Linked DNA regions of Homo sapiens: region 1 is linked to region 2. Evidence: fine-mapped expression QTL. Tissue or cell type: whole blood. Region 2 holds a variant in brackets; the other region holds the start of a gene. All regions are shown on one strand. Distances are between the middles of the regions.

What was found. PIP is the estimated chance that this variant, and not a neighbour inherited with it, causes the effect.
Region 1: LXN starts here. The variant in region 2 is fine-mapped to the expression of LXN in whole blood (TOPMed, PIP 0.99).

What each region holds. Positions count from the first base shown.
Region 1 is chr3:158,671,167-158,673,666 of GRCh38, forward strand. It overlaps LXN (latexin), which reads right to left and starts at 1,482. Exons shown (of 6, transcript NM_020169.4): 1 at 1,184-1,482. The coding sequence starts at 1,312. The region is part of intron 13 of GFM1 (G elongation factor mitochondrial 1); the gene reads left to right. RefSeq lists enhancers at 699-1,291, 806-865, 1,292-1,884, 1,306-1,355, 1,666-1,855.
Region 2 is chr3:158,024,910-158,027,673 of GRCh38, forward strand. No RefSeq gene overlaps it. Among named protein-coding and RNA genes, the nearest start is that of SHOX2, 80 kb to the right of the region's middle. The variant G/C (reference allele first, on the strand shown) is at 1,600.

The sequences.
Region 1 (2,500 bases), 650 kb after region 2:
GAATGTAACATCTAATTTAGCAAGTCCCCTATCAAGTTTATTTTGGATGAAAACAAAAGAGTAGGATAAAAGCATACAAATTGGGCACAATTCACTTTCAATCATCAAAAGACTTTATTTAACCCCTGGATCTGTGATCTTAAAGTCTCTACATAAGAAAGTTTGAAACAGCGTTTAATTCTAAAGATGACAATATCACCTTTGAAAAGATTTTTTCATAAAGCTCAGTGTACCCTCCAAATAATGTTCAATGAATGTGAATTTCATTTTGAGGCAGATTACTGCAAAGCAATTGGAGACTTAATACAATTAAGTATTGTTTTTACTTATACATTAGTGAAACTGCAAAATGATTAACAAATTATATAAGACTAAGAAATGGTATTTCACTTTTAAATCAAGATACAGATTGAAAATTTATACCTAATTCTGTTATCTGGTACAGTTTCAAAATAAGATCTACTGTGTCACCTCTAAAAGACTGTTAGCAGTTAAAATTCTGTCAGATAAATAAGGGATAATCTCAAATCCAGTAGATTTTCGTAAAATGAAAACAAACCTCGTTAGTGATTGCTGAGGCCTTAAACATTTAATTCAAGCCTTTAGCAGAGGGTGCACATCATTTAAGGCAGTCATGTGGTAGCGGTGTTTGGGTGGCTAAAGGCCAGCGTCAGCCCACAGTGCTTTTATTCTTTGACTTTGATTGTCAGTTTCTCTTGCTGTTTGTTTCCCCCTTCATTTTGGTCAAAGGGTCTGATAAGGATTTGTCTTAAAATGTAGGCAATAGAGTCTTGGAAGATGGGAGCTTTTGTTGGTCCAGATCAGAGTAGCAGATGAGAAACGTGGCAGCCTTAGTAGTCTTTTGAATGGTTTCTACAGTTTACACTTAAGGAAAGTGCTGCCCCTTACCTAGAGCGTGTTCCCGTTTTCTTGTAACTGTGTGCGTAAAAACTTTGTCTCTGCCTTAAGGTGAAAACAGTCCCGGGCTGTCTCCAGAGACTGGAGTATAGACATTCCCCCAGAAACCTTAATATCTCAAGACCAGATACCAGCAGTGTGTCCTAAAACAGAAGGTGGGTAGGGGGTGGCACGGAGTGTCTGCACCCAAAGGCTGAGACCGCGGGTGAGTGGAGGGAGCGCAATCCTGAAGCCTCTGCTGTCCACCACCCCCTGCTAAACTCACCTCCATGCTGGCTTGTTTGACCTTCTGCACCTCAAACACCCTGTGCGGGGTCCCCTGCTGGTAGTTGATGTAGTTCTGTGCCACCAAGGCCGCCCTGGAGGCTGGGTAGTTGGTCGGCGGGATTTCCATTCCGGATGAGCAGTGACTTCAGGGCTTGGGCTACTCTGGCTTAACGGGACCAGTAGCAGAGCGCCGCCCGTCCTGCTTGCTGCTGGGTCCGGTTGCCGAGGCGGAAAAGTCGCAAGCTCCTTCAGTCAGTCTTCTTCCTCAGCTCCTTCCGACTCCGGAAGCTGCTGTTTGGGCCCAGGCTCCCTGCATCCGAGAGCCCTGGGCTGACTGCTTCTGAGGCCCCGCCCCACTACTGCCTGCAGCGGGCTTCCTTACTCCGCCTGCTGGTTCCTACTGGAGGAGAGGCCAGCATGCTTGTCAGGCACCAGCAGGTGGAGGTGTGGGGAGGGAGTCAGTGGGCTAGGTTCGCTGGGATTGCATCTTTCGTTTCATTAACCTTTATAGAAGTGCAGGGTGGGGCTTTCGCTGATATAGGACATCTCTGAAGACTCTAGTTTCCTGTCCATGGGAAAAAAGTCTGGTTGCTTCGCTTGCATACTGGAGCACAACTTCCTTATACACCGCATGCAGCGTCCCTGGCAGGGCAAGGTACACAGTACTCCAGGTAGTGATTCGATTCCTTCATTTCCCTTCCCCTTATGAGAGTCCAGGAAGAGGCTTGCTCATCCTCAGCTTTTTGTGGGTTTGGACCAGTTCTGCCCAAATCAAAGTATGAGAATCTGCAAACTATAGTATTAAATTGGGAGATTATGTAATTTGGATCAGGAGAAATAAAAAAATGCACCTGTACCCCTCTCCTTTACTAATCTTAAAATGATAAGTTTTGATGTAACGCCATGCTTCCAACTTGAGTCATTTTGAATATTTTACTTCAAGGATTAAAATAAACTTAAAAACTGAACTTATACAAAGCACTCTCTCTGGTATGTGGTCTACCTCATTGCAATGGGCCTATAAACCTGACTTTGTAGAAGTACAGGTTTATCCTTGGTGGTCTTAGGTTAATTGGGCTAGGATAACTTGGAGATTCTACCAAAGTTTGGCCAAGGTCTTCGCTGCCTGGATTGAGACCTTTTTTTCTTTTCTTTTCTTTTTTTTTTTTTTTTTTTTGAGATGGAATTTCACTCTTGTTGCCTAGGCTGGAGTGCAATGGTGCTATCTCGGCTCACTGCAACGTCCGCCTCCTGGGTTCAAGCAGTTCTCCTGCCTCAGCCTCCAGAGTAGCTGGGATTACAGGTGCCCACCACA
Region 2 (2,764 bases):
AAGACATTTATGCAGCCAAAAAACACATGAAGAAATGCTCATCATCACTGGCCATCAGAGAAATGCAAATCAAAACCACTATGAGATATCATCTCACACCAGTTAGAATGGCAATCATTAAAAAGTCAGGACACAACAGGTTCTGGAGAGGATGTGGAGAAATAGGAACACTTTTACACTCTTGGTGGGACTGTAAACTAGTTCAACCATTGTGGAAGTCAGTGTGGCGATTCCTCAGGGATCTAGAACTAGAAATACCATTTGACCCAGCCATCCCATTGCTGGGTATATACCCAAAGGACTATAAATCATGCTGCTATAAAGACACATGCACACGTATGTTTATTGCGGCACTATTCACAATAGCAAAGACTTGGAACCAACCCAAATGTCCAACAATGACAGACTGGATTAAGAAAATGTGGCACATATACACCATGGAATACTATGCAGCCATAAAAAATGATGAGTTCATGTCCTTTGTAGGGACATGGATGAAATTGGAAACCATCATTCTCAGTAAACTATCGCAAGAACAAAAAACCAAACACCGCATATTCTCACTCATAGGTGGGAATTGAACAATGACATCACATGGACACAGGAAGGGGAATATCACACTCTGGGGACTGTGGTGGGGTGGGGGGAGGGGGGAGGGATAGCATTGGGAGATATACCTAATGCTAGATGACACGTTAGTGGGTGCAGCGCACCAGCATGGCACATGTATACATATGTAACTAACTTGCACAATGTGCACATGTACCCTAAAACTTAGAGTATAATAAAAAAAAATAATAATTAAAAAAAAAAAAAAAAGCTTTTGGCTATTCTCTGTCTCCTCTGCCCTTCTCACACCCCCCTCCTAAAACAACTTAATCAGGAGCAAAATATATATTTTAATAAATACATACACATATATGTAATTTGCTCATGCAGAGTAATTTGTCTCCCTCCAGTCCCTCAATAACAAAGTTCCTTTGGAGCAACCAAAATCTGGAACTTTGATATCATCATTGTAGAATCCCTGATGAAGTTGTTAAACAAAGTGTGTCTCTTCCTCCATTTCTGGCATGAATGTTGTGTGGTGAAATGGGAGGTTCTATTTATATAATAGGTACCCAGATAAGGTAATAACTTAAGGTATTATTATCAACTACTCTATTTGAGTTCTCACCTTGAGTCTATTACCAAACTGTATCATTCCTGCATACAAACTACCTCTCAGAATTACACTCTTGCTTTCCAATTCCCTGGACATTTCCTGGAACTATGTCGGCAGTACCTGGATTATCAACACCCTTCATAGATGCCATTGTCTCCCTACCCAAACCAGAAACTGCTGCTGAAATAACTTTGACAAATATTTGTTTTATAATCTCATTCTTTAGTTTAAAGATACAAAAGCTCCCTATTGCCAAAGAGATTTTTTAAATGTAAGCTAACATACATCTGGCCATTTATGTAATCAACTCCATCCTTTCTTGCTTTCCTGTACAAATCTACCTCTGGCCAAGTAAATCTATTTCCAAACTCCAATCAGCATGATTTATGTAGCCTCACAAGCATTTCTGTTTTTAGCTGCATGCCAGCTCCACT[G/C]CCTGAAATATTCCTTCTCCTTTCTTCATCAATGAATATTCACTGGCACTTCAAAAACAAGGTCAAATTTTCTCTTCTCTTCTACAGGATGTGCTCCTTGACCTATGCCTCCTGACTGACACCACTGCTCTACCCTCAGCCGCTTTATCAATTAAGGGCTCTGTTATCCATGAGCTTACATCTAGCCAAAATAACTTACATTAGCTGAGCACTTACTGTGTACTAAGCACTTTGCATGAGCGTTAGCTCATTTAATCCTCACCAAAAAAAAAAAAATTAACATGTGTACTCTTTTCCCCATTAAACAGATGAGAAAATTGATGCTTAAAGAGCTTAAACACTTGTCCAGAACCACATAGCTACAGCATGGCAGAACAAGATTTTGAACCTGGACTGTCTGGGTTCATCACTTGTACTCTAACGACTATAACATAAAACTGGTACAACAATTGTGTTATTCAATACATAGAGTCATTTATGTTTTTCTAGTCTGTTAATCCATCCAGACCAGGAACTTCTGAAAGTAATGGATGGCTCCTTCTACCATAATTATTTATAATCCTTGTCTCTTTTTCTTTGGATATTTTAATTTAAAATGGGGGAGGGCAATCATAATGGAATGACATAATGATATCTGTTCCTCTCATAAGTGAAACTTGTTTGCCTCCACAGTCCCTCAATCAGTACCAGTTATCCTCTAGGTAAGCTGATTTTAAGAGTTATCAGTTATCACTTAAGAGTAATAGATGTAGGCCTAAAATTGCTACAAGGGGGATCATTATACTCCTGAAGCCCTCATCTGGCAGAATTGTTTAAAATTCTGGAAAATCAAATTCTTTCCAGACCACATAGGAATATGATCTGCTCTTTTTTCTTACTCTCAAGGAATCTAAAAAAAATAAGAAATGTAGCATTTCTGTGAAATCTGTTTTTCTTCCAGAAAAACAAACCAAAGAAAATATATATTTCTAAACTAGACTATGTAAAAATCCGTGTTTGTTTGCAGAAGTCCCAAGAGGAAATAATTTATCCTTTTGCAGACTAACTTAAGTGTACCTAATAACCTTCTTTTAAAAAAAAATAATTTTATTGTGTATATTTTAGATTTACAACATGATGTTATGGGATACATATAGATAGTAAAATGGTTATTATGGTGAGGCAG